2 linked regions of the Homo sapiens genome follow. The protein of the gene in region 1 purifies or fractionates together with the protein of each later gene. This does not show direct contact. Each region holds a gene or a part of one and is shown on either strand. Other genes may lie near its edges. The genes, in order: ABCA1 and SPTLC1.

The links.
Region 2: the proteins of ABCA1 (region 1) and SPTLC1 purify together in Homo sapiens (affinity purification with western blotting; 2 studies listed by BioGRID and IntAct, with this or other methods). This does not show direct contact.

The regions. Positions count from the first base shown.
Region 1 is NC_000009.12:104,915,088-104,927,301, forward strand, and holds part of ABCA1 (phospholipid-transporting ATPase ABCA1), read right to left. Parts: exon of another isoform or gene 11,702-12,214; intron 7,456-11,701; exon of another isoform or gene 7,025-7,455; intron 4,750-7,024; exon of another isoform or gene 4,699-4,749; intron 3,651-4,698; exon of another isoform or gene 2,614-3,650; intron 1-2,613. UniProt on the Homo sapiens protein: Catalyzes the translocation of specific phospholipids from the cytoplasmic to the extracellular/lumenal leaflet of membrane coupled to the hydrolysis of ATP.
Region 2 is NC_000009.12:92,037,241-92,049,454, forward strand, and holds part of SPTLC1 (serine palmitoyltransferase 1), read right to left. Parts: intron 10,469-12,214; coding exon 10,373-10,468; intron 10,029-10,372; coding exon 9,932-10,028; intron 8,814-9,931; coding exon 8,759-8,813; intron 1,126-8,758; coding exon 1,008-1,125; intron 1-1,007. UniProt on the Homo sapiens protein: Component of the serine palmitoyltransferase multisubunit enzyme (SPT) that catalyzes the initial and rate-limiting step in sphingolipid biosynthesis by condensing L-serine and activated acyl-CoA (most commonly palmitoyl-CoA) to form long-chain bases.

The sequences.
Region 1 (12,214 bases):
CTATAAACACCTGGATACAATTTTGCCACCTTAACACTTTTATTCCCTTTACTTGCGCCAAACTGAGTTATCCAATCTCCAGGCTCTTGTCCAGTTCTAGTTCATACAGTATCGGCAGCCTTCTCCAGAACGTCCTTTCACCAGCCAGCTCTTGAGACAGTCATATGTCATGTGTGCAAGACACTTCTATTTCTGCAGCCCGGCGAGGGCCAGCTAACTCGGTTAGTGACAATTTAATCAAAGTTCCAGGGCAAGCACAGAGACACAGAGTCTAAGTCTTGCCCTCCAAAACTTACAAGCAAACTCCTTCTTTAGAATAACCAAAACAAACCCTCTCGCTGGCTGCCTCACTAAATTAAGAGAAGAAAGGGGAATAAGATCACAAGTTTAAATCCACTTACTTGTGATTCTGAAAAACAAAAACTTAAGGGTGTTTTTCTTTAAATATTGACTACATGAACTCTATTATATGAGGTCTGAGAGGATCCTACAAAAGGATCTGTATTATTCCAATATTATCAAGATTCTGAGTGTTCCTTATAGAAAAAACTACTGTTATTAAGATTTTCACAAATCAAACATTCTGTGTGCCAAAGAACAAAGTGGGAAAAATGGAACAAAAGTGGGAATAATTCCCAAAAATGGAATTATTGGGTTTCATTTTTGGTAGCCTCCTTCTGTCAACTGTAGTTTTGAAAAATTCACACAATCCAATCCCCCAAGCAACAACGCGCTAAGTGTTTACATCAGGTGAGAGCTGGTGTTGGTCACATATGCTATGAACTAGAATTGGACAATGTCCCAAAACGGAGTGCCATCTGGGGTCAGAGTGCCATGCCCTTCTCTGCAGACTCCAGGGACATATCCACTCTGCTTAATGGAAGCCACTGGAACCAAGTGTCAGACAGCCCTCTATTTGCTCCACAGAGAAGAAAGCCATGCTCTGATCATGTGAAATGTGACTGGAATTGTAAACTGAAAAATGGCACTAATTCCACTAAATTTGCAAATCCTGCAACAAGACTGACAACTTAATAAACAATACTTGACCAAAGGCTTTCTTTCTCGTGAACTCAAGGTTTTCACTATAATTAACACAATCATTAAAGTAAAAAAAAAATAAAAATAAAAACCCTGCCTTGATTCACAGTTAATTTTAAGCAGCCAACATCAACATCGGGTTTCAGGCTTTTGCATAAAGAAACAGCCTTTAGGAAACCCTCAACATTCAGGATTTTGTTCTGATTCAAACTTACAAAGAACAATTTTTAGTTGAGAGAAACAAAAAATTCCAGTTGAAAGACGCCTTAAGATTCAAATTGGACCAACAGACAGGAGAAATAAATGAGGCCAGTCCAATATTTAACATTTCAGTGTCCATTTTAAGCTGAAAGGAACAGACATCTACAGACACAATTTCTTCTTTCTCTCCTATAAAGGGCACTGTAATAGTTATCCTAAATTCTGGTATAGTATGAAGAAGCCTGGATTAAAGAGGCAAGAGACTAAGATTTTAATTTGCAGTTAATGGCAGCTGGAGAATAAATTTAGCACGCCATTCTACCACTGTGGGTAATGGAACAGAAAACAAGTCCTTTTTTTTGTTTCTTGACACAGAGTTTCGCTCTGTCACCCAGGCTGGAGGGCAGTGGCACGATCTGGGCTCACTGCAACTTCAGCCTCCTGGGTTCAAGCAATTCTCCTGCCTCCACCTCCCAAAGTGCTGTGATTACAGGTGTGAGCCACCGTGCCCAGCCAGAAAATATGTCTTTTTGATGAAGAAGCTGAAGTGGATGACCTTCTGAGTCTAAGAAAACTGTTTGGGACTTGGGTATTCAGTAGCCATGGAATATACATCCCAAAGAGCAGAAGAAACCGTAACACTAGACCCCAACATCAAAAATATGTTGCTATTTTCTCCCACATTGCTGGTAGGGGTGCAAACTGGGACACTTTGGCAACTTACATTAAAATGCTATGAGAGAACAGGGGAAGCATTCCTTAAAAGTTCTAGGAAAGGTGTTATGGAGGAGGTAGCATGAGAAATTCAGCCAAGTGGGAAAAGCACAAACCTGGGAGTCAGAGAGACAAGAGTTTGAATCCCTGGCTCTGCCATTAGCCAAATATGGAACCATGAACAAGTTATTTAACTTCTCCTCGGCTCAGGTGCATCATCTGAAATATGGGGCTAATATAATAATAGGCAAGCTCAGTATTTCCCCAAATGTGGGAGAGTTACACAGGATGAATTTAAGTGATATTCAGAGGATTTTAGGAGATGAACAAGCACAGTATTAAACATTGAACCACATCATGAGAAAATATGGTTCTTTTCAGCACTTCTTCAGCCTATATATAACATTCTTAGTACATTAAGGAGTAAGCGGCCGGGTGCGGCGGCTCACACCTGTGATTCTAGCACTTTGGGAGGCCGAGGTGGGTGGATCACCTGAGGTCAGGAGTTGGAGACCAGCCTGGCCAACATGACGAACCCCATCTCTGCTAAAAATACAAAAATTAGCCGGGTGTGGTGGCATGCACCTGTAATCCCAGCTACTAGGGAGGCTGAGGCAGGAGAATCGCTTGAACCCAGGAGGAAGAGGTTGCAGTGAGCCGAGGTGGTGCCACTGCACTCCAGCCTGGGCAACAGAGCAAGACTCGTCTCAAAAAAAAAAAGGAGTAAGCTTTTGTTTAGTCTTCTTTTTGACACCTCTTTAATGCTTGCTAATTCCCTTTTCAACAAAGTAAGAGAAGTCTCATTGTCAGCTGGGGCCTTTGGGAACCAATAGTTTATCTTATACATAGACTGTGAGAAAAATAATTTGTCTTCATCCTAATTATTTTTAAAATTACCTTTCATTTATGATAACTCATATTGGTTTTCCAATTACAGGTCAAATATAAAGTTATTTTAAAATATATTGATGATTACAAAAATTTGAGTCAACTTGAGTGGGCTGAAATGCTACCTATCTCAGAGTTCCAGTGAAAATTAAATGAGATCATATATAAGAAGAACTAGCCCATGCTGTGTTCCATCACCCACGGTCTGGTTGATGGGTAAAATTTCAGTAGGTGAGGAATATGAGCAGAAGATCAAGTGTGAACCAAGGCAAATACATGAGATGGACATGAGATTCCAGAACAATGAGGAGCCAAACAATGCCAGGAAGGGGTTCTTAAAGTAGAAGATGAAAACCTGTAGAGAGAGACTCATTTAACAGGTACCAAACCATACTATATGTTAATCAGTCTGGTGAGAAAACCAGCTATAGTTCCTTCGAGCATGTGTCTTATAATCCAGGACAAAACTATCAAAGTGGGTCACAGTCTTATTTCAAAGAGCCTTGAATGCCAAGCAGAAAGAGATCATTAATGGTGGCAGATTCTTAAAAGTCTTTTGACCTCTGTCCAGCACCTAGTACTTTCCACAGTACATGGTGTTTAACAAACATTTGCTGAACAAATAAATTTGTTTAATAGCACTATAGGTGTATTAGTGCATTTAATTTTCAAATATAAATATGTATTGTTGTTGTTAATATCATATCTTCTTCTTCCTTCTCTCTCACAGTACCAGACAACAGCCTAACCCCAACTAAGGTAAACTCTGCCACCAAACATGCCTGGGAATGGAGAAGGGTCTGCAGGTCAGTGTAAGCTCATCAGTCTGGGCCTTCACTTTCTCCCTGCCTTTCCAAGGAAAGCTGCTGCTTGCATCAGTGTTGCCTTTATGTCAAAGTGTATCACCTAAATACCAGATCCAACAGATTTCAAGCCACCACCCTCCAAAGACTTGCTTCTTCAAGAAAACAAGCGTGGTTTGACTCTTGTGAAAAACAATTACTCCCAACCTGGCATCCTACAAGAATTTTGCAAAGCAAGGGTGAACAGGGATATGACAACCAAACATCTTCCTAGCAGCTCCTTCCCCCTCCCTGCTCCTGGCCAGAAACCTCTTCTTCCTTTTACTCCTTCTTCTTTCCACTTCTAATTTGTTATGATCTCTCAAACAACAAATTTGGTACAGTGCTTTAGAAAGCTTTGTGTCTTACCGACCTACCCCCAGTGAGGGTCTTCTGAGATACTTCAAACTATCCTCATGAGGTATAGTCCAATTCTCCTCCTAGGATGGGTACTAGCATGCTATTCTTGAAGGATGAATGAGCCTGAAGAGTTGGTTATGGTTTCCTTTCATCACCTATTGGCTTAACAGGAGTCCATTATAAGAAGTAAAACTTAGGCCGGGCACTGTGGCTCACATCTGTAATCCCAGCACTCTGGGAAGCCAAGGTGGGCAGATCACAAGGTCAGGAGTTAAAGACCAGCCTAGCCACCATAGTAAAACCCCGTCTCTATTAAAAAAATACAAAAATTAGCCGGACATGGTGGCATACGCCTGTAGTCCCAGCTACTCAGGAGGTTGAGGCAGGAGAACTGCTTGAATCTGGGAGGCGGAAGTTGCAGTGAGCCGAGATTGCGCCACTGCACTCCAGCCTGGGCAACATAACGAGACTCCATCTCAAAAAAAAAAGCAAAACCTACACCCAAAATGATGTCCGAGATGGAGAGTCCAATTTTATTTTAGAGAGATTTTCCAAATGGTGAGTCAGAAGCAAGAACAGTATCTCACTAAATCATGTTTACTCAACTGAAACTTATTGAATTAAACCAACTCCTCCTTCCTTTGCATTTCAGATGAGAACCCCTTCTGGTTCTATGATTCAAATCTTCATTCACTCAAAGCAGGTAAATAGGAAATTTCAACAGCTTCCTCTCCTCCCTCTCATTCCTTTCTTCTGTCATCGATCTGATCAGGAATGCTCTGAGGCATTCCCTGGTTATTTTTTCTTTACCTCTCAAAATCCACATGGTATGTTACACTAATGCCCAGCATGTTCCTCAGATCTCTAGATGGCTCTAATTAAAGGACCACCCCTTCTTCTGAATACAGACCTGGGGTTAGAGGACATAAGAGCTTGAAGGGCTCTTTAAAAGTCAAGTAGTATCATTTTACAGACCAACAACCTAAAAAACAGAAAAGTAAAATGACTTGTCCAAGGTCACATGGCTTAATGGATTTGTGGGCATTCATGAACACCCTGTAATTACACATAAAATTTGGATTATATGAGCCCATGTGTATTTTTTCTGAAGAGAAAATCCGTATCTTTCTTCAAAGAAGTCAACAATCTCTTCCCCAAAATATAGTAACCACTGACAATTATATGCATATTTGAAAAAAAGTTTAACTAAAATTTAATGTTCCAAGTCTGAATAGTAATATGAATTGGTGATCTAGAATAAGAGTGGAACCTAATTTAATAACTGTCATTGTTATCATCTTTTTTTCTTTTCATGTCTGGGATATCAATGCAAGTAACATGGGATAAAGACAATTTGATGTGGAAGTAAACTATAAAGCAAGATTTTTGTTTTGTTTTGTTTTGTTTTTTTGAGATGGAGTCTCGCTCTGTGCAGTGGCACCATCTCGGCTCACTGCAATCTCTGCCTCCTGGGTTCAAGCGATTCTTCTGCCTAAGCCTCCTGAGTAGCTGGGATTACAGGCTTGCACCACCACGCCCAGCTAATTTTTGTATTTTTAGTAGAGACGGGGTTTCACCATGCTGGTCAGGCTGGTCTCGAACTCCTGACCTCATGATCCGCCCACCTTGGCCTCCCAAAGTGCTGGAATTATAGGCAGAAGCCATCGCGCCCGGCCTAAAGCAAGCTTTTAAAATCACTGAAAACACTCGTATGAATAAATTTCACTATAGGCCAAGCATTATATTATACGGTTCACATTATACACAAACACAAATACCTATTTTACAGATGATGAAACTGAGGCAAAGAGTGATCAGCAACTTGCCTAATGTCAGATATCCATTAGTAATAACCAGAATTCCAATCTACATTAATTTGACTCTGATATCCATGTTCTTTTTCACCAATATTTGCATCTATACTCCAAGATGTCCTAATACTAATATTCTATTTACTTATTTAGAAGAACTAAATCAACTCTCTAAGGTAGCTTCAAGGAAGTCTTTCATAAATGGTTCAACTACTAAAAAGTTCTTCCTGGGAAATATCATAAACTAAATACCAGCTATCACAAAATATCTGGACTTTAAGACTAACCAGATAAAATGTTTTGACTTCCAAATGCTTCTTGGAAGTTGGATTTGGCAGAGAAAACACCGGGGAATTTTAAACAAACACCCCCCAAGAAAAGACTTTATAGAAGAATAGATCCAATGCATATGAAGTTACTGTTTTTTAAAAAAGTGTTTAAATCTCTAAATTACTTAGTGAGTCATGTCACTCTTATTAACAAAAATAAATTAATATACAACTCAAAGTACTTGAATATGGAATGCCACAGACTAGAGCATTTTCTTAAATCACAGCTGCCTCAGAAACGGAAATGAAACTGAGCGAAACTGAAATGTTTGTTCTACAAAAAGTAACCTGGCCTAAATAACTTAAGTATGCACTAAAATTTCTCAGTCTAACATAAACCTAGCCTTAACTACAGTTGTTTCTCATATAACTCTATTTCTAATGCTTTTCTGTGATTACCCTGTTATCTTAAGTAGTCTTTTAGAAGACAGGAAGCAAACATGAGCTTCCCATTCTCCTTGTTGGACTTATTCAAGTCAGCATTTATTAAATTTTTTCCATATTAAGTGGGATGAATTAAGGCCAGGGGAGAATGAATCAAAGACCTTCCTCTAGAGAAGCATACACTCAAGAGGAAGACAAATAAATGTTAACTGTAATTAAAAAACAGAATTAAATACATGATACAAAGAGTGCTGTAATCCAAGTCTAATGGAAGTAAAGAGAAGGGGATCTTACTTTCAACTTAGTGATGGGAAGGAGTGGATCCAGAAGAGCTTCATGAGGAGGGAAGCATTTAAATCGGGTCTTAAAGGAGGTTTGCAAAAGCTAAAGGGTTTTGTACCAACTTTGTTTTCAACATGGGAAAGACAGGATTTCAAACTTTATTTTGTTTTAGGAACCAAATCCAGTGCTCCTCCATTGTTGGAATAAATGCTCTTTGCCTGAATGCTATTTGTGGTCTTCGTAGAATGGAGAGTAACTGAAGGCCCCACCGGAAATCAATTTTATGTAAGCTTTTCATTCTCTGGCCTCAAGTATTTCTAAAATGTACCTTTCTATGCAGGCTACTTATTCAGGCAACTATTTTCAGGTGAAGATACTCAAATGAAAATAGAGAATCCCTTTTGGCCTTTTGCTAATATTTCATTTGTCAAAACTTTGATAGTCTGACAAAGTCTTTACCATGAGATTGGTAAACTCACGGAAGCCAAACTGTCTGGGATGCGACTTCAGCTCCACTACTTACGAACTCCATAATAATGTACCTAGCCTGCCTATACCTCAGTTTCCCATCTATAAAGACAATAAAAGCACCTATTTCACTCATGAGAATGAACTGAGTTATTACACGGAAAACTTAAAAACATATCCAACATACCATAAATCAACAGTAAATGTAACTATTTTTACCAAGAGGTGTCTTCAAAGAGTTTATTTCTAATTCATTACACCAATTAATAAGAAAGGCACTTTCTCATCCTATTTCACTTTTACAAGGCAGACATTTTTTTTCAAGACGGAGTCTCACTCTGTCGCCCAGGTTGGAGTAAAGTGGCACGATCTCGACTCAGTGCAACCTCCGCCTCCCAGGTTCAAGCAATTCTTCTACTTCAGCCTCCCAATCCCAGTAGCTGGGATTACAAGCACCCACCACCACGCCCAGCTAATTTTTGTATTGTTAGTAGAGACGGGGTTTCACCATATTTGCCAGGCTGGTCTTGAACTCCTGACCTCAAGTGATCCTCCTGCTTTGGCCTCCCAAAGTGCTGGGAATACAACAATGAGCCAGTGCACCCAGCCAACAAGGCAGACTTTGAAACTGTGTTTATCTTCCAAAAATACGTATATCTTAAGAAAAAACTAAATTTGATTTCTAAACAGTAACAGCAGTAACAGAGAAATAGCTTATTTCAAAAGGTCCACAACTTCATCAAGGACAGGACAAGCAAGAATCATATTGTATTATAACAAATTTTTACAATTCACCAAAGTTAGGTTTTACAACTAAACTAACAGTTCACTTCTCTTTTTCCTTTGTTTCTTAGGCCCTTACAGCCTAATACTCTATCATTCCATTTTCTATAGATCACATAGGAAAACATTTTGAGATCACACAGCTATTCGCAAACATCTGACTGAAGCAATAGTATAGTTTTCATTATGAACCAAGTAAAAAATTGAGTTGAGTAAATTTTATTCTATTCTTTCCAGGATGTTGCAATCCCTACGCAACCAAGGTTTCAAGTTAAAGAGAATTTGGCTGACCCACTCACAGCAACAAGGAAAATATGATACAGGCTGTAGATTCTGATAAGGATTATAGCAGATGAATGTAGAGAATGTGGTGATCATCCTTGAAAAGCTCCCTGGTTGCAGCAGCTGAAATGTTAGTGCTGGAGTTAAAGAACTCTGGCTGGGTTCAAGTCTTAGCTCTGCCTCTTGCAAGGTATATAGCCAGAGAAAAATTAGCTTCTCATTTACTTAATCTTGTAAACTAGGGACAATAAATGGTTTTGTTGTGAAAATTCAATTAGCATTTGATGACCTGCACAGTGGCTTATGCCTGTAATCCCAGCACTTTGGGAGGCTGATGTGGGAGGATCACTTGAGCCCAGGAGTTCAAGACCAGTCTGAGCAAGATAGTGAGACCTTGTCTTTACAAAAAATTGTAAAAATTTAGCCAGGAGCAGTGGTGCGTGCCTGTGGCCCCAGCTCCTTAAGAGGCTGATGTATGAGGATCACGTGAGCGCAGGAGGCTGAGGTTGCAGTGAGCCTTGTCTGTGCAGCTGCACTCCACCCTGTGCAACAGAGCAAGACCCTATCTCAAAATAAATACAATGAATAAACACGTGAAAAACATTTCAAACAGTACTTGCCACACAGTGCTATATAAGTGTCTATTCAACACTGCAATAACTTTGGCCATTCATGGTTGTATCCACATGCAGATACGAAGATGGTTGCATTTTTTGGAGTAGGCCTTCTCTCAGCATAAACAAAACAAGTGTTCAGAATGATCTTTTAACATTTGATGCTAGAGTAAATGACCATAACAACTACTATAATGGTATTATTTATTTAATATCTGGATACTTAAAAAAATGTATTTGAGGCCAGGTGTGGTGGCTCATGCCTGTAATCCCAGCACTTTGGGAGGCTGAGGCTGGCAGATCACTTGAGGTCAGGAGCTTGAGACCAGCCTGGCCAACATGGTGAAACCCTGTCCCTACTAAAAACACAAAAACTAGCCGGGTGTGGTGGCACGCACCTGTAATCCCAGCTACTCAGGAGGTTGAGGCAGGAGAATCACCTGAACCTGAGAGGCGGAAGTTGCAGTGAGCCAAGATCATTCTACTGCGCTCCAGCCTAGGCAAAAGAGCAAGACTCCATCTCAGAAAAAAAAAAAAAAGAAAAAGTATTTGGTTTTAAAAGTATTTTAGAAATGCAAAAACCACATGCATTTTGATATTTTCTAGACATCTAGATATCTTCATAATTAGAAGAGTCTATCTAAGGTAATGTTCACTTATTCTAGCAGCTAAAAATGAAAACAGTGAAGACCTTAATTTGTAGCCACTACATATATAGCTTAAGTATCCCGGCTTACGGGAGAGAAGATCCCTTTAAAAAAAAAATTTAAATGGAAAAATATCCCAACCAACTCCTCTCCAAAAAGGTAAGTACTACAGAAGATAATAAAAAGCTAAGTCACTGAACTTCTTCAGTTTCATTCATTTTTTTATGTTTACAATGGGACTTCCTTGAGCAGAAGGAACCAATCCTTGAAAACAATCAATTCCTGATCACTCTTTTCCAATCCTGCACTAATGCACTGTCTCACACAAACCGAAAATATGTTCTAAGTCAAAATGTGTCCAGGGGTCGGGCGCGGTGCCTCACGCCTGTAATCCCAGCACTTTGGGAGGCCGAGGCGGGTGGATCAAGAGGTCAGGAAATCGAGACCATCCTGGCCAACATGGTGAAACTCTGTCTCTACTGAAAATGCAAAAACTAGCCAGGCATGGTGGCGTGCGCCTATAGTCCCAGCTACTCAGGAGGCTGAGGCAGGAGAATCTCTTGAACCCAGGAGGTGGAGGTTGCAGTGAGCCATATCGTGCCACTGCACTCCAGCCTGGGAAACAGAGCGAGACTGCATCTCAAAAAAAAAAAAAATGTGCCCAGGGTCCATTATAGGCCTGCACTCGTAGAAATACGAGGGTTGAGATTTCAAATGCTCATCTGCAGGGGAGACAACATATCACACGTGTCCAGGTTACAGTCAGATATGTCATTCTGGAACACTATGCGGGTGCTCAAATACAGACTCCTAAATTGCTCTGACAACAGTAGCAATTCTAGTCCCTTAAATGGCTTGTAGTCATCGTGAAGGCTGAAGACCCACTTCCCCGGTCCTTCTGATTGTAAACCAATGTTTTCCTAAAATTCCCTAGCATTAATTATTTTAATGGTTTGTGGAATTATTTAATGGTTTGTGGAAGCACTTGGGAAACAGGCTGACAATGGAAACTTTGTATTTGAAAAATATTGTAATATCTGTAGAGGTTCTACTCAGGAATACTTTCCATGCTTCCATACTTTCTCTGATTTAGGAGAAAGTTTCTCAAGAGAATGATACTCTCAACAGAAACGGAAAGTTTCTCAACAGAAAGCCTCCATTATTTTTGTGGTAGGTATGAGAAGAATAGGTTGAAATAAAAGGGGAGATGAAAACTTAAGGACTTTAAGTTTTGTTTGAAAAGAAGATCATAATTTAAGTCTGGGTTCTAAACTACGGCCGTTAAAAAAAAAAGAAAAAAAAATCAAGAAAATTCCACTCTTTAACTTGGGGGAAATTTTTGTGAGGTTCTCTTCGTGGGAAGCAGGGATTCGGCCATGGAGGGCAAGTGACTTGCTGATTTCAGTACCCAGAAGGTTTTTTTAAATATGAAATTTGTCCACTATGAGATGAATGTGTATATACTACCCATTCTCTTCTTGAAGTGTCAATGAAAAGTCGGATTTTAAAAGCTAATGGTATCAGTGCTGCAAAGGCAGGCCAATTACTGCCAGTGCCAGACAACTTTTTTCTTTGTTTATTTTTAATCTTATTTCTTTGCTTCTTTTTGATAAAAGATATACCTAAAGAGGCACCTACACATAACCCTGGCACCGTCCGCCGCCCCAAGAACCTTCCTGCTTTACCAATGGCCTGGGAGTTGGCAAACACGCTAACAAAAAAAAAAACCAAAAAAACAAAAAAAAAAAAACAAAACGGGCTTTCGCCTCAACCTCATAGTTCCTCCCCGTCTGCAACCACCGGTCTTCACCGGATTCACAGTCGGAACCGCGAGCAAAGACACCTAGTAGAGCCGGCCGATTCCTAGGTCCTCCGGCCAGGAGGCGCTGCGGGCCAGTCTCCGGGGGCCACCGCAGCCCGCGCGCCCAGCACCCCCACCCTCACGGCAGAGCCCAGCCCAGCCCCGCGGCGGAGCTCCGAGTTCTGCGCCGCCCGCCGGGGTTACTCCCGGTCATTCCACGGCACCACCTCGGCCCAGCTTCCCCATCTGCGCCCAGGCAGAAGCTGCCCCGAGAGACCAGCAGCAACGGTCTGGAAGATGGGGCTGCAGGGAACGTGGGAGAGGGAGGATTGGGCACCCCACCTCCGGGTCTCCGCAGGCTCTCCTAAGTCTTGTTTTTAAAAGAAACAAAACTCGGCCGCGCGCGGTGGCTCACGCCTATAATCCCAGCACTTGGGGAGGCCGAGGCCGGTGGATCACCTGAGGTCGAGGGTTCGAGACCAGCCTGGCCAACAAGTTGAAACCCCGTCTCTACTAAAAATACAAAAATTAGCTGGATGTGGTGACGCGCCTGTAATCCCAGCTACTCAGGAGGCTGAGGCAGGAGAATCGCTTGAACCCGGGAGGCGGAGGTTGCAGTGAGCGGAGATCGTTCCATTGCACTCCAGCCTGGGCGACAGACCGAGACTTAAAGGAAAGAAAAAAAAGAAAAAGAAAAGGAAACAAAACTCGTCCGCGCTCTGCGCCAGGGACACCAGCTCAGCTGAGCGCACGGAGACTGTAGGCAG
Region 2 (12,214 bases), about 13 Mb from region 1:
CAGGGCCTGGCCTAGGAAAGGCACATGACAGGTGGTAGCTGCCATTATGACCCCAGAAACCTAGTAGCATTGCTCATAGCTACAGCCTCTGGACAAGGAAGCAGAATCATGCCCATTTTCATTCTCAAATACATACTAGGTATATGTCAGATTCTTCTCAAAGGAGCAGCAGCAGCCCACATAAAAGTCCAGATTCTTCTGAAAGCAGATGTCCAGCATCCCAGGACTTGGAAGAGGGGTGCAAGGTGGGTGGCATCCCACTGCCCGTCCTGAGTCCTTCCTGCCCAGGTTATTCCGCTGCTCTTCCTCCCCCTTTTAAAGAAACTTCTGTTGGCTCTGAACCACTGTAAACCCGCGTGCCCAGGGCAGGAAGCACTCTGGAGGGGTAGTGCTACTGGATGAAAAGGGGCAAGCAGTTTTCCCTGGTGATGTGTTTCTTAGACAATTAGTAGTAAAATAACTTTTGGAAGATAAAGAAATTTAAATAAATCTCCCCAAATTAGGTATGTTATAAAAAGCGGTCTTCCTTTCCGTTTACAAGAGCATCCTGACTTCAGGGTGACTGTGAGTGGACTGTCCCTGAGCTGTGCTGCGGGGACAGCCAGCCGTCCAGGAATGTGTGCTATGCCCACACACAATGCCTCCCCCAACTACACATAGGAAAGCCTGGCTTTGTAAAATGGTGAGCAAGTGAGTTTTCTGCAAGGCTAATTTTTCAGAGGAGAGGCCAAGTATATTTAAATGCAAAGTGGTACAAAACACAATATCTTTGGAGGGAGCCACACATTGACCCAATGGGAGGGCCTGCTGCCTGTTACCATGGCCAGAAGCTAGGAAGGACCTGGAGGATTAGGATTCCATGTCAAGAGCGGGTCACCAGCATCTTCCTTTCTACCCTCTTCTCTCTCAGGGCAAAGAGACTTTTCTTAAAAATTTAACATTAAAAAATTGCTTGGGGCAAGGGCAGAAGTGGTGTGGGGGGATGCCTCAAGTCAACGGATACTTACTTGATCTACAATTTCCTGAAGCAGTCTGACATCTTGCTCGCGAGACCCAGTGCTCTCTTCCAGTTGTAGGTGAAAGGCTGGAGAAAGGGACTCCCCCACCACTTTTAATCCAGAAATGCTGAAGAAGGGAAACACACACACAGCTGTAAGTCCCTTCCAGGCTTGAAGATCGCTCACGGAGAAATAATGTTAGAAGTCCACAATGTCAAGGCACAGTGAACGTACAGAAGCTTGCGACTGATGGGAAGCATCATTCCAATTCCAACAAAGAAAGGGAAACGAGGCACTCTGGGCAGTGCTTCCTCATCTAAAAAAGTCTGCCTGCAATGTGGCTTCCTGAGTGCAGGACCGGGTCTCATGGCCCCAGCCTCCCACCAGGGAGTCTGTGCCTCCTTACAGGCCCTCTGGGCCCCACCTTGGCCTGTCATTCCCTTGCCATGTGCTCCCTCGCCCCCAATGTTTGTTCTTCCCTGTGTTGGCTGCATGTGCCAGGGCCCAGCTCCAGCACTGCCTGCTGCTGGGGCCTTCTTCATCACCCACTTTAGGGAAGGCTCTGCTCCATCATTTGCTATTTTTCATCCTGTCTGGATCCTTCACAAGCTACTCACTACAGTTTATGTTATGCTTCCTTGCTTATTATCTATGTCTTCAGTTTTTGTCTCTCATAAATTACAGGGATGATTTCTAACATTAACAACATTATACCCCATCTCTACAAATAAAACAAAAACAAAAACAAAAAACAAAAAATTGGCCGAGTGTGGTGGCTTGCGCCTGTAGTCCCAGCTAGTTGGGAAGCTCAGGTGGGAGGATCGCTTGAACTCAGGAGGTCAAGGTTGCAGTGAGCTGAGATTGTGCCACTACACTCCAGCTTGGGTGACAGAGCAAAACTCTGTCTCAAAGAAAAACTCAACAAATACCAAACATACCTTATATTTTGACTAACAGCAATATGTTTAGATAGAAAAACGTCCTTATTTGCATGTTAAGTTTTAGATTTTACTTGGATTAAAATTATTTTCTTTTTACTTAGGATTAATAGCACAAAAATCTGTAGCTTCTCAAGGAGAAAGATAGATCTTTAGGGGCCAAATCCTGTATTTTTAAATTAAATTAAATTTAATCCTGTATTTTTACTACAGCTGCCATGAGATGCTATGTCATACTACTATTATTATTATTATTATTTTTGAGATGGCATCTCGCTCTGTCACTCAGGCTGGCTGCAGTGCAGTGGCACGATCTCGGCTACTATCTAGTCAGGTTCATTTAAAGTCTATTTTATCCTATAACAACAAATATTATTTGACTTTTGACCTACCTCCTAGGACACAAATGTGATATATGTCTATTTGAAACTGAGCTAAACATTTTAGATTCCTTTCATTTAGTTTGTTTCACCTAAAACGATTTGTTTTTCCCTCAGAATGAAATGACAATAAAAAGTACTAGGTAGCACAATGGCATCTTCCCAGTTTAGGACTCAACAAGCCTTTACAGAATGACTACTGTGTGTTACAATAATGTGAATTCTGGAAACTCATCTGACCTGGCCTTCCAATCACCCTTGGAACATTATTAATTAGCGTCTCCTTTCTTTAAATATAAATATATCATGCTAGATCTCTCAATAAAGCAGGCTACAGGTCTGAATCATGGAATCTTGAGCATGTGGAATGTGGGGGAACCTTCTAGATTAGTTCTTTACTAATGTAGAAACTAAGCAATACACTTTGAAAACCCATTTCCTGTGTAAATTCTGACCATGTTAAACGCATATATCAAGTATCTTTTTTTTTTTAAAGGTCATGTATTCTCACAGTATTAAAAAATTGCTTTCAGTCAGGTGTGGTGCCTCACGCCTGTAATCCCAGCACTTTGGGAGGCCAAGGCAGGTAGATCACCTGAGGTCAGGAGTTTGAGACCAGCCTGGCCAACATGGTGAAACCCTGTCTCTACTAAAAATATAAAAATTAGCCAGGTGTGGTGGTGGACACCTATAATCCCAGCTACTCGGGAGGCTGAGGTAGTACAATCGCTTGAACCTGGGAGGCAGAGGTTGCAATGAGCTGAGATCGTGCCACTGCACTCCAGCCTGGGCAACAAAAGCAAGACTCTGTCTCAAAACAAAAACAAAAACAAAAGCAAAAAACAAAAAAAACAACAAAAAAAACTGCTTTCCAAATAGCATTTCATATGAATCAAATGGCCTCAATTTTCCTCAAGAAATACAAGGCGCGATGGCTCACACCTATAATCCCAGCACTTTGGGATGCCAAGGTTGGGGGGATCACGAGGTCAGGAGTTCAAGACCAGCCTGACCAATGTGGTGAAACCCCGTCTCTACTAAAAATACAAAAATTAGCCAGGTGTGGTGGCACGTGCCTGTAATCCCAGCTACTCAGGAGGCTGAGACAGGAAAATCGCTTGAATCTGGGAAGTGGAGGTTGCAGTGAGCTGAGATCGCGCCACTGTGCTCCAGCCTGAGTGACAGAGCAAGACTCTGTCTCAAAAGAAAAAAAAAAAAAAAGAAAAGAAATACAAGGCACCTGAGGTCCAGATCTAACTTGTGCTTTTTGATCAAATGGTCTCATTTCACATGCTAGTGAGAGAAGGAATTAAACAAAATGCCCTGTCTCTGGTTGCCTAGATGCTGAATGTCAGATGAGTTTAATTAAAACCAAACGGACACAGTTATAGCTTGAGTTCAGCGAAGCCGTGTTTCAGAGTCTATTATACTATTCCTTAACAAAAGACTTTGCCAAACATATCATCTTATCCCAGTGGATAAACGAGCACTGGGCTAGCTCCCAGGGACAGAGCAATCACCAAGGTAGCCACGGTCTCCACTGTGTGCTTACAGTCTATAGGGAGAACCTGACACCAATAACTATCTCTATTACAATGAAAACAGAGGCAAACCAGCATAGGATGTTGACTTCCTTTCCCAAACTCAATCTCAGAGATGAGAGAAGTGAGAAATTAGAGAAAAATTGAACAAAAAAATTACTCAGAACTAAACATTGAAGATACTGCCTTTGAAAATATTTATCTTTAATATATTTATTGGAAAATACGAAATAAAACCAAAAGCTAAATGTAAGAAGCTGAAGAAGAGTAAGAACACAGTGCAATGAGACAGTGCATAAAAATAAGAAAACACACTATGATGAAAACACACAAAACCAAATTTACATAAATAAAAAGTTAAAATAATATAGATATATGAGAGATAATCAACAACTATTCCCAAACCAAAGGCCCCAAGCCTAGATGGCTGTAAAGTGGGAGACCTACTCTCAACTTCTGAAGAAACGATCAAGCCTTGTTTTACTCAGTGCTTCCATGAAGCAGAAAGAGTGGAAAATAGCCAAATCATCTACCGAAGCTACCCTAACACTGACTCCTATGTTACGTAAAGTTGGTACAAGGTTATAGATCCATTTAAATTATAAACAGATATAAAAAGTCAAATTAAAATATTAGCTAAATAAATCTAACAGTGTAGAAAAAGATATTATAATGAAGTAACGGTTTTCTCAAGAATGCAAGGATGGTTTAACATCAGAAAATATTTCAATGTAATTCAGCCATAAGACAAATTTATGATTTACCTTAATAGATGTAAAAAAAATGGATAAAGTTCAACGTCTATTTATGATTTTAAAAAAAGGCCTTCAAATTTAGGAATCATTTAGCCAGGTGCAGAGGTACATGCCTGTAGTCCCAACTAGTTGGAAGGTGAAGGCAGGAGGATTGGTTGAGTCCAGGAGTTTGAGGCTATAGTGTGTTGACTATATCTGTGAATAGCCACTGCACTCCAGCCTGGGCAACATAGCACAATCCTGTCTCTTAAAAAAACCACAAAACAAAACAAAACTAGGAATAATTCAATAAAAGCTACTCACCAAAAACCCATAGCATGATGTTTTATACTTAATGAAGAAGTGCTTCTATACTGGGAATAAGGAAGGAATGTTTGCTATTATTGCCACTGTTCAATACAAATTAGGGACTCAGACCAAAGCAATAAAATAAGAAAATGAACTAAGACGCAAAAGCATTAGGAAGGAAAGAGAGAACACCATTATTGCAGATAACAGGACTTCCATGCACATCATCATAACACAATGAAACAATTACTGGAAATACTAAGAGTTTAGAAAGACTCCTGGATATAAGGTCAGTTTAGAGAAAATAATAATATTCTTATGAATCAGCAATAATCAAGTAGAAAATATAACAGAAAAGACAACCCCATTCATAACAGCAACAAAATCTATAGGATGTCTGAAAATTCCCTTTAAAGGTTCCATAAAGGTACAAGGGCTTTATAGGAATTCCATTAAAGGACACAAAGGGAGATTTAAATAGAGAGCTCATGTTCATGGATGACATTTCCCTCCACATTCATCAGAAAATTTAATGCAGTTCCAATTAAGATTCTAGCAATAATTTTGGAGAAACCCATATTCCAAAACAGTGATAAAAACAGACACTAGTGATAAACCTGTATTCCAAAACAGTGATAAAAACAGACAAAATCAAAAGAGTCTGAGGAATGAGCAAATATACCAATGGAATGGAAGAGACAGTTTAAAAACAGATCTAGGTACAAATGGGAACCTGGTATATGATACAGTACTGTCAACCAGTAGGAGAAAGGATGTTTTATACTTAGCCAGATGTTATTCAGAAATTGATCTCAGTAATCTTAAACTGAAATATTCTTCTCTTGACCAATTTCTTTCTCCAGCCACCATCTTGTTTCTTAGTCCCTCTTCAGAGAAAAACTCCTCAAAACAGTCATCTAGGCCGTGTCCACCTGTCTGGAACCTCCTTCAAGCAGGCATTTTACCCCACACTCCCCTGAAACTACTCACCAAGTCATAATACCTCTACATAACGAAGTCAAAGGATCAGTGTTCTGTTATCTGGTCTGGCCTGTCAGCAGCGGCATGTCACAGGCTGACCTCCTACATAAGCAATTTCTTCCCTGGTTTCCAGGACTCTAGGCTCTTCCAGCCTGCCTCTTCCTCACTGGCCACTCTTTCTCAGACTAGTCTTTGCTAGTTTCTGACCTCTTCACACTGAAATGCTTCATATAATATCCATACCCCAAGACTCAAACATTTATCTCTAGCTCAGTACTCTCCCTCACACTTCAGACTTGTATATCCAGCTGCTGCTCTGCACTCCATGTCTGATGGGCACTTTGGGCTTAACATAACCACTGCTGACCTTCCCCAGAAGGTATTTCTCCACAGTTCTGTCCCTCTCACTCATTAGCAACTCTACCTATTTACTCTGACCAAACCCCCTGAGCTCTACCTGGAGTCTTCTCTTTCTCACTCACCCTGCATATGAACTTCTGCTAGATCCAGTGTGCTCTCCCTTCAGAAGATACCCAGAATCCAGACACTTCGCAGGTCATGGCTCCCAACATGGTCAGAGTCACTATCACCTTTCACCTGCGTCAATCTCCTAACTGGTCTCCCTGCTTCTGTTCTTACTGCTGTTCAATGTATTTTTTCACACCATGCAAAAGTAATTTTGCTAGGGTATCAGATAGGCTGTTTCACTTTTTTGCTCAAAACCATGCCAGGGCTTCCTCTGTGTGCCAATGTCCTCATCACGGCTCACAAGTCCCTGTGTGCGGATGGCCCATGACCCAGCCCTCATCTTCCACCAGATTTCCCACTCCTTTCCTCCTGTCACATTGGCCTCTTTGCTATTTTGTTTACTGTTCTCTGTAACCATCTAGATACCAGCACGGTTTGCCCCTGCGACCCTTATGAATGTGTGTTTACTGTGAGGTGCCATGGAGTCTTCCAACTGTGGATACTGAGTAGGCAACTGGGTGTGAGACCTGCAGCTGCAGTGGTCCAGGGTGGTGATACGAAGCTGGGAGCTGTCTCTATACAGGTGTCATGAAACGATGTGGAGCTCCAGGTGTGGGAGAAGGCAATTCTTCAAGAAGGTAATGAGAAGAAAAGAGAAGCACAGACAAAGCCTTGAAGAGCAAGGTGTTGAAAGAAAGCCTTCAGAGGAGACCGAGATGGAGCCATTCAAAGATGTAAAAGGAAATCCAGGCGTGCAGTGTAGCAGAGTCCAAAGAAGGAAAGAGTGGTCACCTGTGCTGAAAACTATGGGGACATCAAGAAGATGAGCTCTGAAGATGGTCCACTGGATTCAGCAGTCAGTGGAGACCTCCACAAAAACAGTCCAGGCGAAGGGCAGTAGCAGAAGCCAGGTCTCAGAGCTGCCAGTGTAAGTGAAGACGTGGAGATGATAGCTACTGAGAGGAGCAAAGACATGGGGAGTTGCAGAGGGAAACGTCAGGTGACAGGCAAGAGGAATTTAAAGTGGACATGACTGCTAATCAAATAACACAAGAAAGGGGACAGGCTGATGACAAAGTAGCAGGGACAAGCAAAGGCACTCAGTCCTTAAAAAAAGGGCCTGTGGTAGTTGGAGCAACATTTACTGGTCTACAGGAGGGAAGACTGGTTCAGATACCCACAGGTGTGTAGATTTGTCAGGAAATATGACAGAGTCCCAAGTGACAGCATAAGGCCAGGCTGTTAGCTAAAAGTGAGGGGAGTGAAGACAGAGGATTAGGAATTTTGGAAAGAAAAAGTGTGATACAGCTGGGGTAAGTGGAGATTAGACTTAGAAAAAGGCAGGTTAACACCATAGAGTGAAAGGCATGTAAGGCTAGCACTGATGCATTTCCAGTGACTCCAATATGCTAGGCTGTGTTGGCATATTAATATTTCACAAACCAATGGAACTGGAACCAATACAAATATATCTCTCTACCATAAATCATGCAAGAACTGCTGTTACTATCACACAGACACACCCAGAACTTTAATGTCTCTGCCCCTTCTTTATCTGGAACAGCTGTGATGTACTCATTTATCAATTGTCCTTTTCTTTCAGTTAAGTCTCCAGTTTCCATATCCGGAACACAGATAGGACTTTCATGACCAAGAAAGCATGTTTAACCTTAGGAAAGGCAAAAAGAAAGACCTCGGGCAATGTGAAATCACTTTATATAAGACCAGAAATGTGCCTGGAGATATCACCAACCTCCATTTTTTTTTTTTTTTAACTACAGAGGAATCTTAAAGAGTGACTCTTCTAGATGACAAGTTAGTGGGTGCAGCACACCAGCATGGCACATGTATACATATGTAACTAACCTCACAATGTGCATATGTACCCTAAAACTTAAAGTATAATAAAAAAAAAAAAAGTGACTCTTGTGTAGTAAAAAAAAAAAAAAAAAAAAAAAAAAAACACTGATAAAATTTCACTTGTTTCTTTTTCTTGTGTTAAAACTTAGTAATTTATTAAAAAGTAACACAGATGGTATGAACCCAGTCATCTAATTACATAATATATAATGGCATCCCTGTGTGTGCAGACATGGAGAGATGCTTCAGTGTTTACCCTGGTTATTTCTGGTGGTAAGATGTTGGGTTGTTATTTTCATCTTTCTATCTTCTGTACTGCTGTAATATTTTATTAATGAGTTTGTTTCATTTTCAGAAAAACAAAGTCACGATTCTTTAAAACAGATGATCTGGTTTTACACAAATAAACCAATGTGAGTGAACTAAGTTTTTGGTTTCTTAGCTGCAATCTGGTCAAACTGACCCAAGCCTAGAAATTTAAAACTTTCCATTAGTTGTTAAGTGTGGTGCAGATAAACTTTATGTTGGTTGAAAATATATAAAACTCACCCTTGTAAAGCTTTATGAATTTGTCCGCACTTTTCCTTCAACACTGCAAAAATACCTAGATGAAAAAAATACGTTTGAGAGTCTATTTGAAACTTATGATAGTACTAACCTAAAAATATTTTTGAAGACCCAGATCAAGTTCATCAATTTAAAATGCTACAAATCCTTCTACATACTAACAGAGCCAAGAACCCATACTCCCCTGAAGGCCCAAGCTTTGTCTCTGGTGCGTGCTAACTGGCCCCTTCTCACCTCAGTATCCCACTTTCAACAAACCTGGAATGATGCTTTCAAGAACAATCAATGCCTCTTGTTCTCATCAAGATCCTAATCTGGCTAAGAATCAAAGGGTACAAATTTATTGCTTATTTCTTTATCCTAAACAATTTGGTAAAAAATCAACTATAGTAAAGTAATTTTTACAATCTTTTCTTGATATTTTCCTTTTTTATTCAAGGAAAATCCCAAAACTAAAGTATCTGATCAGAAGGTAGGCGTGCCAGGCCATCTGAGAAGCAAGCATATGAATGAGCACAGAGACACACATTTTCTGGTTCTCTGAATTAGTATCAGTGATGAAGATTCAGAAATACTGTACCGGGTAGGGCCTGCTGCTCCCTTTCCGTTTTAAGCTTTGCAAAGGTGGCACTGTCATAGCCAAAGGCCACATTTTAAATTCTTAGTAGACTTTTTATTTTTCCCACTGAGTAAGTTCTTTGCTGGTAAACCCGGCTTGGCCTCAGTACCAACTGATGATTCAAAGGCTAAAGGTGAAAACTCACAATATTTATAAAATTGCACAGATAAAAAAGCAGCATGCTTCAGCTGATTTCTCAAAAAACTATTAACCAAATAAAGACTGGCTTATTTACACCAATGGAACGTTTAGGCCCAGAACTGGCTGAGAGCCCCTCGTCCTCCCAGCATCTCCACCCACTATCTGAGCTAGCCTTGCTTTGGCTCTGGCTCTGGCCCCAAGCACAGGAGAAAAGCTCTGACCCCAAGTCCTTGGGGCAGGAATAGCTTCTTCACTGCCATTCTTCCTATGAATGCCATATAATGTAACTGCAAACCAGTTTTGTCTGGCAAATAATTTCTCCAGTAAGTAAATCAGTAACACAACTAACGTAACCTGAAATCTCTTTGATTCCTTGGGTTTTTAAAGGGTTATACCTGGATTCTCTTCCATGATGTTGAGGGCCTCAATTGCTGCAGCAGCTAACAGGGGAGGTAACGAAGCTGAAAAGCAGTATCCCTGGCCGGAAAGTCGCTGAGAAGAAACAAATGAAGACATATACACATTCTCTGTCCTTTCTAGGTAAACATTTGAAAGGCACCAGTTCTCTAGAACAACTACTGAACAGTGTGTACATGTGGTGAGGGGGGTAAGATCCAGCCATAAATAAACATTATACGTGTAACAGCAACAAGACTTTTTGTTAAATGTGAGATCATTTCTAAATAGAAATATTTTGAGTGATTCTTTAAAAATTGACATTTAAATAAAAATTGTGTGATAAACTAAGTAAAATTTCGTATTTCAAAATTATATTTTGAGGTGACCAATGGAGAAATTAGTTTCAGTTTTAGCTCCTGTTTTTAAAAAGAACCCACCTGATGGTCAATTACAAAAGACCTGCCACAGCAGAAACCTCCAATAGAAGCAAGTGCATTCTCCATGTTGGCACTGATAAGATCAATATCATCAATCTGCCGGAAAAGGAGGAGTGACAGTTATTCCACAGTTTAAAGAAAAAAAAGGCCAACTTCAAGCCTAGAGACAAAATTTAACAGCATTAAACTGTCTGTTAATATCTGGATTCAAACTACCTATCTACATGAAAATAAAAAATAAACCATATAACATCTATCGCTGAATGAACTGTAGTCTCATGGCCCATCTGAAACTGTCTCATTTTATACATTTTTACCATTTCATTATACATGACAAATTAACTCACAGCAAAGACAAATAAATTATAAGAAAATAAAACCCAAAGCTGTTCGATATTAAAAGTAGTCACAGGTACAAAATAAGACTATTTCCTCGCTAAAACAGTGGTCTAGCTGGCCTTCCTCATGGGATGCACTGAGATAAATAAAAAGTCTATCGAAGTTTTGAGCACTTTATTCTTGTATTCAGTTTGCCTCTCAGCATTTCATAAGTCAATTTATCCAAACGTCATGGCGATGGAATCTTTGACCAACTGGACAGCAGAAGAACCTAATGTGCTCTAAAATGACCTAATGGGCTTTGAGTCCTACATCTTTCTGACCACTCAGAACTCCTTCGGTCCTCATCTTTGGGTCCAGCCCTCAGCACCAAGTTCCATTCTGGGCACACAGTAGGCATTCAATCATTACTTACTGATGGCCATGTTAATGGATTGTCAGAACACAGCTAGTGTTTTCCTTAGTGTTTCATAGATCCAGCAGAGTTTTGAGAAACTCTGCACTCCTGCCCTTTTTAAAAAGCATGTTTAAACCTTTCATTATGAAAAATTTCAAGCCTGAACAAAGTAGAACAGAACAAAGAATCCCCATCACCCAGATTCAAACATTATCAACTCAAGGACAACCTTGCTTCACCTATATCCCCTACCACCCTCATCATTTCTTTGTAGTGAGTCCCAGACTTCATGGGGTTTCATCTATAAACATTGCACTGTGTATTTCTAAAAGATAAAAACTCTCTCAAAACATAATCACAAAACTAGTATCATACTTAAGACATTAACAATTTTTAAATGTTAAGTTTAAATTTGATGTTAAATATATTCAAATATTCAGTGTTCAGATATCTCTGATTGTCTCACCAAATTTTCTTTTAACAGCATTTGTTTGAATCAGGATCCAAATAAAGCCCGTACATTCTGCTCTCTACTCTCAGGCGCTTGTGAGTATTTCCTCACAGTATTTCCCAAAGTGACAACTGCTGGAAGCATTCACAAAACTACAACAGTGAAGTTCAAGTTTTTTCCTCCATAAAAATTTTCATGCCTTAAAAAAGGCTGTAGTGTACTGCTAAATCTGCTTGAATTACACTTCCATTTATCTTTCCATTTATTCCATTTACCTCCTCGGTGCATGTAACTGCTGAATGTCAGTCTGCCTTGGAGGAGGTGCTTCCATCCAACCTCCCGGGATATTCACTCTGCTTTACATTTTTCTCTGGGACTATATGGTTAGCGGGATGTCGATAATGTAAGGCAATTTTACGTTTTATAGTTCAACTCTGTAACACAGGTTGCACAGCTCTTATGCGCATGTTTTGGAGAAAAAGCTTTCTGTAACTCTTCCCATGGTGGTTGGTAAGACAGCTGTTCAAGACTGGCTGACTTCCTCTGCCCTGAGGCTCCAGGAGCAAAACCCACTAGGCACTGCGGGCAGTCTGGGTCCATTTCCCTCAGAAAAGGAAACATGACACCTCATTCTGTTTGGGACTTTAAGAGGTTT